2 linked regions of the Homo sapiens genome follow. The protein of the gene in region 2 purifies or fractionates together with the protein of the main gene of each other region. This does not show direct contact. Each region holds a gene or a part of one and is shown on either strand. Other genes may lie near its edges.

Region 1 (5,609 bases), on a different chromosome or scaffold from region 2:
GGGCATGGGCATGAGTGAGGATAAAGGCGTTTGCTTTATTTTGGGAGTGTGGAACCTTGTTGCAGTTTGTTCATTCATTCAGGAGATGCTTCTTGAGCTTTTGCTAGATGTCAGGTCCTGTGTTAGCTATTGAGAAAATTAATTAGTTACAGTGATGCTAGGTGCTGTAAAAGGCCTGTATAGGGCTGTGTCTTCTGCATTAAGGATTTGGCTCTTCTCTGAAGAGTTGAGTGTGAGTGAGCACAGATGACCTGAGGGTGGGGATTGAGTGGTGTCAGGGGGCAGCGCGTAGGAGGGGCAGGAGGAAGTGGCGGGGCTTTGTTCCTCACTGGGCCTCCCTGCTTCCCAGCTCAAACCAATTCTGGCTGATATCGAGTACCTGCAGGACCAGCACCTCCTGCTCACAGTCAAGTCCATGGATGGCTATGAATCCTATGGTGAGGGGTGAGGGGTGCTGAGGGGAACAGGAAGCCAGACAGGGCCCTAGATTAGCTTGGTAATTTGCTGGTTTGTCCCATCTGCTCCTCAGGGGAGTGTGTGGTTGCACTCAAATCCATGATCGGCAGCACGGCCCAACAGTTCCTGACCTTCCTATCCCACCGTGGCGAGGAGACAGGCAATATCAGAGGCTCCATGAAGGTGCGGGTGCCCACGGAGCGCCTGGGCACCCGTGAGCGGCTCTACGGTGGGGACTCCACTGGGACATGAGATAGGGTGGTGTGAACAGATCAAGGAGGGCAGGGTGCGGGGGGCATGTTGGAATCTCTGGGATACCTGGAGGTTCTGCAGCCACAGCTGGGAATAGTCCTGCCCCAAGGCATAGCTGGGAAAGGGCTGGCAGGCCCACTGGGTGTCTGTGGGATCCAGGAGCCCAGGTCTCCTCTGAGTCTCCCTTCCTGCCCCCTCAGAGTGGATCAGCATTGATAAGGATGAGGCAGGAGCAAAGAGCAAAGCCCCCTCTGTGTCCCGAGGGAGCCAGGAGCCCAGGTGAGCTAGGGCTGTGTTGAATGTCATATGAAAGGGTACCTGGGGGCATCTGGTCAACCCCACTTCATCTCTCTCCTGTGCATCCCTGGCAGGTCAGGGAGCCGCAAGCCAGCCTTCACAGAGGCCTCCTGCCCGCTCTCCAGGTTATTTGAAGAACCAGAGAAACCGCCACCAACGGGGAGGCCCCCAGCCCCACCCCGAGCAGCTCCCCGGGAGGAGCCCTTGACCCCCAGGTGAGAGGAGGAACCTGTCACCGCCCCCCCTTCCCCCACCCACCTCTATCCATCACTATCCCCTGCAGGGTCTCAGGGTTGGCCTGGAGATCATCAGCTGCTTAGGTGCCCTGCCACTCTGTGGTTGGAGCTGCCATGGCCTTATGCCTGTGGCCAGCCAGGCCACCCTTAGCTGTGGCTCTGAGTCAAAGGGAGCAGTCAGCCTTTCCTCTCAATTCTGCCTTTAAAAATGGAATGCGAAATTGTTTCTAAGACAGCTCCCTCCATGTAAACAGACCTAGCTTGAGCCTTCTATTTGGAGGAGGCACATGGCTCGGCCTGGGATTTCCCAGGGTACCTTCTTTGGAACTCTGTCCTGCAAGAGGCCCCAGTTGAAATGGGTTTGTGGTCAAATGAGTTTGGGAAATGCTTTTTCTAGATTCTTTTCTTAGACATTCCCAGTGCATGTTAGTATTAGCAAAAGCTCTGAGCATGTGGACAGGAAGGAAACCTCTTTTCAGCTCTGTTTAATATAGTTTCCCAAACTTAATGGGCCAGGAAACTTATTTTCCATGTAGTAACTATTAACGTTCTGGGGAATTAGTGCTCTGTGTCACACTTTGGGAAAGTGAGGCTTGCTTTCTAATTATATCCGATTGTTGCTTAAACTTACATAAACTCCTAGGTACAGTTTGGTGCTTTTTCACTCATCTTCAGCTGTTGTCAGTCACCCCGGTTTTATCCCTAGGCTTGAATAAGACCCACCTGAATCTCTGAGAAAGATTCTGCAGCGGATTGACTGTGGGTGCCTCAAGAGGCTTTCCAAACCTGGCCTCTCATTGGAGGCTTCTTGCCCTGTCTTCTGGCACCTCTATTCTGACCCATTTAGCTTGGGTTTCACAGCTACAGATAAAGTCATGAAAGATCTAAGTATCTTAGCAAGTGAGGCAAGGGATTGTAGGGTTATCCATTCAAAGGGTTATCCTCCCTCTGACCTTTAGAGATGAAGAAACTAAGGGCAGGTGATGTGCTCAAGGTCATGAGAAAGTCTAGGACCAGGGGACTTTCTGACTCCCGTCTAGTTCTCCTTCCACTGCTTCCACTGCCTTAGACCTGGGTTCCTGGATCCTGGCTTAGTCGTTCTGCTTCCACACCCAGGTTGAAGCCAGAGGGAGCTCCTGAACCAGAAGGGGTGGCGGCCCCCCCACCCAAGAACAGCTTCAATAACCCTGCCTACTACGTCCTTGAAGGGGTCCCGCACCAGCTGCTGCCCCCGGAGCCACCCTCGCCTGCCAGGGCCCCTGTCCCATCTGCCACCAAGAACAAAGTGGCCATTACAGTGCCTGCTCCACAGCTTGGGCACCACCGGCACCCTCGTGTGGGAGAGGGGAGTTCTTCAGATGAGGAGTCTGGAGGCACACTGCCCCCTCCAGACTTTCCACCTCCACCACTGCCGGACTCAGCCATCTTCCTGCCCCCCAGCCTGGATCCTTTACCAGGGCCAGTGGTCCGGGGCCGTGGTGGGGCTGAGGCCCGTGGCCCACCACCTCCCAAGGCCCATCCAAGGCCTCCACTGCCCCCAGGCCCCTCACCAGCCAGCACTTTCCTGGGGGAAGTGGCCAGTGGGGATGACCGGTCCTGCTCGGTGCTGCAGATGGCCAAGACGCTGAGCGAGGTGGACTATGCCCCTGCTGGGCCTGCACGCTCAGCGCTCCTCCCAGGCCCCCTGGAGCTGCAGCCCCCCCGGGGACTGCCCTCGGACTATGGCCGGCCCCTCAGCTTCCCTCCACCCCGCATCCGGGAGAGCATCCAGGAAGACCTGGCAGAGGAGGTGTGTGGAGCAGGGTGGCTGTCTGTGTGTGCCTGAGTGTGCTTGCCCACAGACTGGTACCCTTTCACTCCACCATTCAGCACTCATGGTGTCCCTGCTACCCTGAACTGATCACTGGGAAGTTGGGAGACACATGTATCAGCCCAGCCCTTCCCTTCCTTTTCCCCAGAGCATGCAGCAGAATGTGACTGCAGGTGTTTCTATGGGGGGCACTCAGCTCCCCCTGACATGCCCTGTTTCCTTAGGCTCCGTGCCTGCAGGGCGGGCGGGCCAGCGGGCTGGGCGAGGCAGGCATGAGTGCCTGGCTGCGGGCCATCGGCTTGGAGCGCTATGAGGAGGGCCTGGTGCATAATGGCTGGGACGACCTGGAGTTTCTCAGGTGGGGGAGGGGCTGGCCCCGGGGGCGGAGCTGGGGCCCTCAGGATCCCCTTGCCCATCTCACTTCCCAGCCTGTTTTACTCCACAGTGACATCACCGAGGAGGACTTGGAGGAGGCTGGGGTGCAGGACCCGGCTCACAAGCGCCTCCTTCTGGACACCCTGCAGCTCAGCAAGTGATAGCGGAGGCACCACGAAGCTGTGAACTCAGAGCCCCTCCCTGCTACCAAGGCCCAGCTATGGCCCCAGGGTTGAAAAGTTATGAGGGTCAGGGCAGTATCTCTCTGCCTATTTATTGGGGTGCCTATTTATTGGGGATCTGCATTCCCCGCTGCCCAATCATTTGCAATGCCCTAATTAGGGCATCCTGCCCCTCGCCTTTTAGGCTCAGGACGGAAGGTCAGTTGCCATGGTTACCGAGGACCCTGGTTACTCTGGTGCTGTCCTGTTTTACTGGACCCCGCCTCCCAGCCCCAGGGGTGCCTGTGGGGGTCCATTTGGGTACGTCTGGGCCCCCACTTTCACCAGTTTCTGCGGCCTTCCACCGGGCCTGAACCACAGCGGAGGAGCTCCGCTAAGACCTCCCCACCCCCGCTGGGGGTGGGGGCGGGTGTCCGTCCGGAAATGAAGGAATAGCCCGAGGACCGGGCTGGGGTTTATTTAAACTGTTCTGTGTGGGTCTGGGGAGGGAGAGCACCTTAATATTATTGGGGTTGGTTGGGGTGGGGCAGGATCTCAGCCATAAAGTGCCAGTTTGCTTAGTTCTCACTGTCTCCTGGTCTGTGCTGCCCTGCTCTGGGGATGCACGGCGGCAGGGTGGGGGAGGGAGGTTCCTCGCAGGTCTCAGCCCGGGACAGGGTCTTGCAAGCAGCCTCCTGGGCAGTCGTAAGGGTTGCGGCGTGATGTCTTCAATAAATTAAGTTTTATTTGGATTGAGTAAAACTTCAATAAATTACAAGTTTTTCAAAGAAAAAGGACAACCAAAAAAATTAGGGAAAGAGAATCCCTCTGTCCCATTCCCCAGGCAGCCCCTCCACTCCTCTAACAGGTCCACCCTCTGTGCCAGACGGGCTAGGGAAGAGAGGAGACACGTGAGGGATGAATTGGCGGTGGTCATTAATTATCCCGGCGACCACCAGCCTCTGTACGGGTGGGCCCGAGGGGTGGGGCAGCGGGCTTTCCTGATCACCAGCGTAAGGGGTGACCCAGCCGCTGCAGAGCCAGGGAAGGGGGCTGTGCCGATCCTCCTTGAGGACCTTCACTTTGAGGGCACTGTTAGGGACAGGCCTCATGTGATACCGCATCCAAAGAAGGCCAAGCTAGAAGGAGCTCCGGGGTTCTCCTGGAGGAGGTCCCGGTATAAAGAACTCCGCTCTGCTGGTAGAGGGTGGGTGAGGACGAGAGTGGCCCTGACTTGGTCTCCAAAGTTGGGGAGGACACACCGAGGGGTGAGACAGTAGGGAGTGGAGACGGATGGGGACTTCCAGGCGGGTGGCCAGGATGGGAGGGGCTGTCAGGTCCTGGAGGGGCAGGGACGTCTCTGGGGGCAGGCTCGGAGCCTCCAGAGGCCGGCAGCTAGAAGAGATTGGTCTTCAGGGCGGGGCCGGGCTTCCGGTGAAAGGAGGACAGAACCCCGGAGAAGGGCCCGGGGCCGGACTCCGCCGGCTGCCAAGCCTTAAGTAGTTCGGCCGCTCCCGCGCCAGGCCCGCCGCCCCCACCGCCCGCCACACCGGCCCACAGTGCGCCCTTGAGCGGCTGTGGCCCCGGCCCAGGTCCCGGCCCGGAGCCCAGTGCGACGGGCAGCGGGCTGGGGCTCAGGCGCGGGCTGGCCAGGCCGGGCGCAGGCGGCGGCGGCAGCGAGGCGGTGCTATCGGGCGTGGGGCTGCACGTGGACTCCTTGGAATCGTCGTCCTCGGAGGAGCAGCGCGCCTCGCCCTTTTTGGCGCCCGCCGCGCCCGCCGCGCCCTTGGCGCTGGCCGCGCGCTCCTGTTTGCGGAACTTGGCCCGGCGGTTCTGGAACCAGACCTGCGGGCACAGGGGCCAGTCAGCCTGGACGAGGGTCGGAGAACGCACGGGGTCAGCCCGCGGCCGCAAGGCTCGAGTGAGATCCTGGTTCGGAAAGAACCGGGCCCGGGTTCTTACTAGTTGGAGGGGCCTTCGGCCCTCCGCACGCAGCCCGCTGCACTCCGCGCTCCACTGGCC
Region 2 (8,456 bases):
AGAGACGGGGTTTCACTGTGTTAGCCAGGATGGTCTCGATCTCCTGACCTCATGATCCGCCTGCCTTGGCCTCCCAAAGTGCTGGGATTACAGGCGTGAGCCACCACGCCCAGCCTATTTTTATATATTTTTAAGACAGAGTCTCTCTCTGTCGCCCAGAGTGGAGTGCAGTGGCACAATCTCGGCTCACTGCAACCTCTGCCTCCCAGGTTCAAGCAATTCTCCTGCCGCGGCCTCCTGAGTAGCTGGGATAACAGGAGCCCACCACCACACCCAGCTAATTTTTGTATTTTTAGTAGAGATGGGGTTTCGCCATGTTGGCCAGGCTGGTCTCGAACTCCTGAATTCAGGTGATCCACCGGCCTCAGCCTCCCAAAGTGCTGGGATTACAGGCATAAGCCACCACCCCCAGCTGACTCCAAACCCTTTATACATTAGGAGCAAATGCTATGGAAACATGAAGAAAGGGAGGAAAGGAGGGTTGGACAGGGGTGTATTTGAGCAAAGACTTAGAGGACATGAGGAGCTGGGCCCTGTGGATGTGGCAGGGAACAGAGAGCCAGGCAGAGGGAATGATTAAAATACAAAGGCCTGGCTGGGTGCAGTGGCTATAATCCCAGCACTTTGGGAGGCTGAGGCAGGCGGATCACCAGAGGTCAGGAGTTCAAGACCAGCCTGACCAACATGGAGAAATCCTGTCTCTACTAAAAATACAAAAATTAGCCGGGTGTGGAGGCGGGCACCTGTAACCCCAGCTACTCGGGAGACTGAGGCAGGAGAATTGCTTGAACCCGGGAGGCAAAGGTTGCAGTGAGCCGAGATCACGCCACTGCACTCTAGCCTGGGTAACAGCAAGATTCCGTCTCGAAAATTAAAAAAAAAAAAATACAAAGGCCTATCTGTCTGCTGTCCGGGCAGGTATGTCTGCTCTCCTAGACCAGGGCTGAGCACGCTGCATCCAGGCCACAGGGTGCTGTGTGTGACATAGACACCAGGGAGGGAGGAGAACCCTGGTGAGTCGAATCACGGACCCTCCTCCAAGAACCCTGGTTGCTTGCTCTGCAGGTGCGCCTCCTGGGAGTGGTGTCCAAGGGCCAGCCCACGCTGGTGGTGATGGAGCTGATGGCTCACGGAGACCTGAAGAGCTACCTCCGTTCTCTGCGGCCAGAGGCTGAGGTAAGCTGCTTCGGGGGACCCAGCGGGGTACTCGGTGGAGCACCCGCTCCTGGCCTCCTCGGATCCCAGTGCTGCTGAAACACCAACCCCGTGTTTCTGTTTTAGAATAATCCTGGCCGCCCTCCCCCTACCCTTCAAGAGATGATTCAGATGGCGGCAGAGATTGCTGACGGGATGGCCTACCTGAACGCCAAGAAGTTTGTGCATCGGGACCTGGCAGCGAGAAACTGCATGGTCGCCCATGATTTTACTGTCAAAATTGGAGGTTCGTCTGGCTTTCTGCTTTGAAAACATAACGACCCAGGCCAGGTTTGATTTCAGAAGGAAGTTGTCTATAATGAGCCGTTAAGTCTTTTCTGATAATATAAAGGGGCAAGATACTTCTTTTTTTTTTGTGGGGTTTTTTTTGTTTTGTTTTGTCTTTTTGTTTTTGAGACGGAGTCTTACTCTGTCTGTTGCCCAGGCTGGAGTGCAGTGGTGTGATCTCAGCTCACTGCAACCTCCACCTCCCAGGTTCAAGTGATTCACCTGCCTCAGCCTTCCAAGTAGCTGGGACTACAGGTGTGCGCCACCATGCCTGGCTAATTTTTGTATTTTTAGTGGAGATGGGGTTTCATCCATGTTGGCCAGGATAGTCTTGATCTCCTGACCTCGTGATCCTCCTGCCTCGGCCTCCCAAAGTGCTGGGATTACAGGCGTGAGCCACTGCACCGGCTTTTTTTTTTTTTCTTTTTTCTGACATGGAGTCTTGCTCTGTCGCCCAGGCTGGAGTGCAGTGACAGGATCTCGGCTCACTGAACCTCCACCTCTTGGGTTCAAGCGATTCTCCTGCCTCAGCCTCCTGAGTAGCTAGGATTACAGGCGTGCGCCACCACACCCAGCTACTTTTTGTATTTTTAGTAGAGACGGAGTTTCACTGTGTTGGCCAAGATGGTCTCAAACTCCTGACCTCATATGATCCACCTGTGTTGGCCTCCCAAAGCACTGGGATTACAGGCATGAGCCACTGTGCCTGGCTGGGCAAGATTTTGGATGGGGACCCCCCACCAGCTGTCATTTAATTGCATGTATTGATAAACTCACTTACCCATTCACTTCTTTAAAAGATATGTTTGTAGGACCGGGGGTCCCGCCTGTAATCTCAGTGCTTTGGAAGTCCAATGTGTAAAGACTGCTTGAGTCCAGGAGTTTGAGACCAGCCTGGGCAACATAGTGAGACTCCATCTCCTTGAAAAGATTTTTTAAAAAGTGGGGTGTGGTGGTGCACACCTGTGGTCCCAGCTACTCAGGAGGCTGGGGTGGGAGGATTGCTTGAGCCCAGGAGGTGGAGGCTGCAGTGAGCTGTGACAGCATCACTGCACTCCAGCCTGGGTGACAGTGAGACGCTATTTCAAAAAACAAATAAAAAAGGAATATAGAGGGGACCAGAGCAGCGTGAGATGTGAGGATGAGGAGAGAGGCAGAAACCAGACCCAGAAGGACCTTGCGTGTCACAGCAAGTCATCTCGACATTATCTTACATTAGCAAGGGGCAGCAGGAAGTGATATGATTCTATTTATGACTCAAAAAGACATCTCCTGGCCAGGTGCGGTGGCTCACCCCTGTAATCCCAGCACTTTGGGAGGCTGAGGTGGGTAGATTACCTGAGATCAGGAGTTCGAGACCAGCCTGGTCAACACGGTGAAACCCTGTCTCTACTCAAAATACAAAACATTAGCTAGACATGGTGGCAGACAGCTGTAATCCTAGCTACTCAGGAGGCTGAGGCAAGAGAATTGCTTGAATCAGGGAGGTAGAGGTTGCAGTGAGCCAAGATTGCACCACTGCACTCCAGCCTGGAGGACAGAGTGAGGCTCCATATCAAAGAAAAAAAAAAAGAAAAATGTAGCTTCTTTGTGATTTGGTACCTTCTTTTCCCTCCCTTTAAACAGTAGCCCATCTTCCCCCTTCACTTCCCCATGCGTACCCTCAGAATCCATTCTTACTGGATTTGGCCACCACCCAGGTGAGCGCAGACGTGGGCCAGGTGAACCCCTCTTAGGGCTCTGTGAGAGGTGGGGCAGTCAAGGTGGCAGATGCTAGGACCAAGGCTGAAGGTTAAGAGCGTGTGAACCTTTTGTGTTGTCAGACTTTGGAATGACCAGAGACATCTATGAAACGGATTACTACCGGAAAGGGGGCAAGGGTCTGCTCCCTGTACGGTGGATGGCACCGGAGTCCCTGAAGGATGGGGTCTTCACCACTTCTTCTGACATGTGGTGAGTTGTGTGTGGATGGGTGGATGGACGCTGGGCTTGAATTCCAGGTGCTAGTGAGAGCCAAGAGCGGGGGAAGGAAGCCTGCCATCCTCCTGGACGCCCCATCAAGGAAAGGAAGGCAGCGTCCTGTCTTAGGATCTTCCCACGGCTACTCTTATGTCCTGACTAATCCTGTAGGCATTGTGAACCCCGAAAATCTGAGACAGGTCTCAGTTAATTTAGGAAGTTTATTTTGCCAAGGTTGAGGACGTGTGCCCGTGGCACAGCCTCAGGTGGTCCTGAGGACAGGTGCCCAAGGTGGTCAGAGCACAGTTTGGTTTTATACATTTTAGGGAGACATGAGACATCAGTCAACATATATAAGATGAACATTGGTTCGGTCTGGAAAGACGAGACAACTCGAAGTGGGGAGGGAGCTTCCAGGTTGTAGGTAGATAAGAGACAAATGGTTGCATTCTTTTGAGTTTCTGATGCGCCTCTCCAAAGGAGCCAATCAGATATGCAGGTATCTCAGTGAGCAGAGTGGGGACTCTGAATAGAATGGGAAGCAGGTTTGTCCAAGCAGTTCCTAGCTGGACTTTTTCCTTGAGTTTAGTGATTTGGGAGCCCCAAATTGATTTTCCTTTCACAGCATTTATGAACTGCAGCATGAATTGTTTTATTAAGTGGCTAACCATGTTCTAGAAACCAAGAGATGTGTTTGTGTGTGTGTTTGTGTGTGTATGTGTGTGCATATGTGTGTTTGTGTGTGTTTGCATGTGTGTGCGTGTGTGTGTTTGGGTGTGTGTGTTTGTGTGTGTATATGTGTTTGTGTGTTTGCATATTTGTGTGTGCATGTGTGCGCATGCGTGTTTGTGTGTATTTGCATGTGTGTGCACGTGTATGTGCGTGTGTGTTTGCATGTGTGTGTTTGCATGTATGTGTTGGCATGTGTGTTTGCGTGTGTGTGTGCGTTTGCGTGTGTGTGTTTGCGCGCGCGCGTGTGTGTGTGTGTCTAAATGGCTTCTTTGTTACTACTATCAACTGTCATCGGCAGGTCCTTTGGCGTGGTCCTTTGGGAAATCACCAGCTTGGCAGAACAGCCTTACCAAGGCCTGTCTAATGAACAGGTGTTGAAATTTGTCATGGATGGAGGGTATCTGGATCAACCCGACAACTGTCCAGAGAGAGTGTAAGTGTAGAAAGGGTTTAAGGTGTGTGAGGTGTTCGTTGAAAGGGTATTGCCCTTTACACGTGTGCTTGGTTTTGCCTTTCCTATGTCTACACGCTCACCGTGTTTGCATGCTGTATGTTACAGGTGTGTTTGTGTTTGCATAGCTTGTCTTTACATGCATGCTTGCATTTGCATATTGCATTGTGGTACACACACTTGAGTTCCCATATGTGCTACATGTACGCTTACGTTTGCATATTATATATTTACATAGGTATTTATGTTTGCATATTATATGTTTCTGTGTGCATCAGCATATCATGGCACATGTACACCTCATTTACATATTATAAGCACACATGTTTACATATTATGTCTTTACCTGCCTGCTTGTGTTCACAAATCATATGATTTTCTTGCATATTGTATCTTTGGAAGGTTGCACAAAACACCTATAGCGGTAGTTATCTTGGGAGAAGGGAACTGGAGACCTGGGGTTGGGGGAGAGAGACCTGTTTGCCTGTTAATTTTTTTTTTTTTTTTTTTTTTTTTGAGACGGAATCTTGCTCTGTCACCCAGGCTGGAGTGCAGTGGTGCGAGCTCGGCTGACTTCAAGCTCCGCCTCCCGGGTTCACACCATTCTCTTGCCTCAGCCTCCCGAGTAGCTAGGACTACAGGCACCCACCACCGCGCCTGGCTAATTTTTTTTTTTTTTTGTATTTTTAGTAGAAATGGGGTTTCACCGTGGTCTCGATCTCCTGACCTCGTGATCCACCCACCTTGGCTTCCCAAAGTGCTGGGATTACAGCCGCCTGTTAATTCTTTATACACTTAAAATTTTGTCAGGTAGCTGGGCATGGGTGGCTCACGCCTGTAATCCCAAGCAATTTGGGAGACCGAGGTGAACGATCACCTAAGGTCAGGAGTTCAAGACCAGCCTGGCCAACATGGTGAAACCCCGCCTCTATTAAAAATATAAAAATTACCCAGGCGCGGTCGTGGGCGCCTGTAATCCCAGCTACTCAGGAGGCTGAGGCAGGAGAATTGCTTGAATCGGGGAGGCAGAGGTTGCAGTGAGCAGAGACTGCACCATTGCACTGCAGCATGGGTGACAGAGTGAGATTCTGTCTCAAAAACAAACACAGACACACAAAAATTTTGTCAGGCATACATATTATATATTCCCCCCTCCAAATATATATGCATATGTACATATATATATATTTAGATGAAGTCTCGCTGTGTCACCCAGGCTGGTAGAGCGCAGTGGCACAATCACAGCTCACTGCAACCTTGAACTCCTGGACTCAGCCTCCTGGCTCAACCTCCCAAAGTGCTGGGATTACTCTTGAGCCAGTTTTGAAATGAGGAATCCCTTTTCAAAACCATCTTTCAGGCTGGACAGGATGGCTCATGCCTGGAACCTCAGCACTTTGGGAGGTTGAGGCAGGAGGATGGCTTGAGCCCAGGAGTTCAAGGCTGCAATGAGCTATGATTGCGCCACTGCACTCCATCCTGGGTGACAAAGTGAGAAACCCTGTCTCAAAAAAAAAAAAAAGCGGCCAGGCATGGTGGCTAACACCTGTAATCCCAGCACCTTGGGAGGCCAAGGTGGGTGGATCATTTGAGCCTAGGAGTTTGAGGCCAGCCTGGGCAACATAGCAAAACCCTGTCTCTGCAAAAAATACAAAAATTAGCTAGGCATGGTGGTGCACACCTGTGGTCCCAGCTACTTGGGAGGCCAAGGTGAGAGGATTGCTCGAGCCTAGGAGGCAGAGGCTGCAGTGAGCTATGATCATGCCACTGCACTCCAGCCTGGGTGACAGAATGAGACGCTGTGTCCAAAATAAGAAGAAGAAAAGCAAAAAGAAAACACCATCTCTCAGCACCTCTAGCAATGCTATTTCTGCCTTGACAATTGTCCACACACACAGCCAGCATCTGATGTGAGCACATGTGGTCCGTGGGTGTCGGCTGCAGGGACAAGAGTGGGGGTTTGGGAGGATGCGTGGCAGGGCCCCCAGACTCACCCAGGACGTGTCCTTCTGCCCCGCAGCACTGACCTCATGCGCATGTGCTGGCAATTCAACCCCAAGATGAGGCCAACCTTCCTGGAGATTGTCAACCTGCTCAAGGACGACCTGCACCCCAGCTTTCCAGAGGTGTCGTTCTTCCACAGCGAGGAGAACAAGGCTCCCGAGAGTGAGGAGCTGGAGATGGAGTTTGAGGACATGGAGAATGTGCCCCTGGACCGTTCCTCGCACTGTCAGAGGGAGGAGGCGGGGGGCCGGGATGGAGGGTCCTCGCTGGGTTTCAAGCGGAGCTACGAGGAACACATCCCTTACACACACATGAACGGAGGCAAGAAAAACGGGCGGATTCTGACCTTGCCTCGGTCCAATCCTTCCTAACAGTGCCTACCGTGGCGGGGGCGGGCAGGGGTTCCCATTTTCGCTTTCCTCTGGTTTGAAAGCCTCTGGAAAACTCAGGATTCTCACGACTCTACCATGTCCAATGGAGTTCAGAGATCGTTCCTATACATTTCTGTTCATCTTAAGGTGGACTCGTTTGGTTACCAATTTAACTAGTCCTGCAGAGGATTTAACTGTGAACCTGGAGGGCAAGGGGTTTCCACAGTTGCTGCTCCTTTGGGGCAACGACGGTTTCAAACCAGGATTTTGTGTTTTTTCGTTCCCCCCACCCGCCCCCAGCAGATGGAAAGAAAGCACCTGTTTTTACAAATTCTTTTTTTTTTTTTTTTTTTTTGCTGGTGTCTGAGCTTCAGTATAAAAGACAAAACTTCCTGTTTGTGGAACAAAAGTTCGAAAGAAAAAACAAAACAAAAACACCCAGCCCTGTTCCAGGAGAATTTCAAGTTTTACAGGTTGAGCTTCAAGATGGTTTTTTTGGTTTTTTTTTTTTCTCTCATCCAGGCTGAAGGATTTTTTTTTTCTTTACAAAATGAGTTCCTCAAATTGACCAATAGCTGCTGCTTTCATATTTTGGATAAGGGTCTGTGGTCCCGGCGTGTGCTCACGTGTGTATGCACGTGTGTGTGTCCATTAGACACGGCTGATGTGTGTGCAAAGTATCCATGCGGAGTTGATGCTTTGGGAATTGGCTCATGAAGGTTCTTCTCAAGGGTGCGAGCTCATCCCCCTCTCTCCTTCCTTCTTATTGACTGGGAGACTGTGCTCTCGACAGATTCTTCTTGTGTCAGAAGTCTAGCCTCAGGTTTCTACCCTCCCTTCACATTGGTGGCCAAGGGAGGAGCATTTCATTTGGAGTGATTATGAATCTTTTCAAGACCAAACCAAGCTAGGACATTAAAAAAAAAAAAAGAAAAAGAAAGAAAAAACAAAATGGAAAAAGGAAAAAAAAAAAGAACTGAGATGACAGAGTTTTGAGAATATATTTGTACCATATTTAATTTTTAAAGTCTCTGGTATTAGCCTCATAAGTTATTGACTATTCCCCGGGGTTGGCGGGGAGTGGGGACATGAGTTGGTCTGCCTGTTGTGGGGCCGGGAAGGGGAGGGAGTCAGGCACAAGTGGCCTCTTTGTTTGGTCTTAAAGGCATCCATTTCTGGGAATGAAGCCATGTTCGCTGCTAACACTTTTGGATGTTGTGAGGCCACGTGGAGTGTGTGAGAGACTAGGTTTTATGGATGGTCTGGTTCAGGTACCAGGTCTGCTGGAAGGTTCCTGTTCGGATAAGCTGGTAGCTACCTAGCTCTGAGCCTGCCTTCAAGAACACCTGTGTTCATCCTCTGATTCTCTGTGTGTACCTCTTGTGGCGTTTCCTCTCCCGGGTGTGAACATCCTAACCGTTATTGTGCAAACCCAAGAACGTCAGATCCCAAAGCAC

What was found.
Region 1: the proteins of INSR (region 2) and INPPL1 purify together in Homo sapiens (affinity purification with western blotting, with the first as the bait; 2 studies listed by BioGRID). This does not show direct contact.

What each region holds. Positions count from the first base shown.
Region 1 is NC_000011.10:72,234,767-72,240,375, forward strand, and holds the end of INPPL1 (phosphatidylinositol 3,4,5-trisphosphate 5-phosphatase 2), read left to right. Parts: intron 1-349; coding exon 350-437; intron 438-529; coding exon 530-685; intron 686-908; coding exon 909-987; intron 988-1,079; coding exon 1,080-1,220; intron 1,221-2,357; coding exon 2,358-3,030; intron 3,031-3,275; coding exon 3,276-3,409; intron 3,410-3,496; coding exon 3,497-3,587; 3' UTR 3,588-4,381; downstream 4,382-5,609. Other genes in the region: PHOX2A (paired mesoderm homeobox protein 2A), read right to left, coding at 4,983-5,516. UniProt on the Homo sapiens protein: Phosphatidylinositol (PtdIns) phosphatase that specifically hydrolyzes the 5-phosphate of phosphatidylinositol-3,4,5-trisphosphate (PtdIns(3,4,5)P3) to produce PtdIns(3,4)P2, thereby negatively regulating the PI3K (phosphoinositide 3-kinase) pathways.
Region 2 is NC_000019.10:7,115,599-7,124,054, reverse strand, and holds part of INSR (insulin receptor isoform Long preproprotein), read left to right. Parts: intron 1-1,065; coding exon 1,066-1,176; intron 1,177-1,281; coding exon 1,282-1,441; intron 1,442-3,305; coding exon 3,306-3,435; intron 3,436-4,471; coding exon 4,472-4,606; intron 4,607-6,644; coding exon 6,645-6,999; 3' UTR 7,000-8,456. UniProt on the Homo sapiens protein: Receptor tyrosine kinase which mediates the pleiotropic actions of insulin.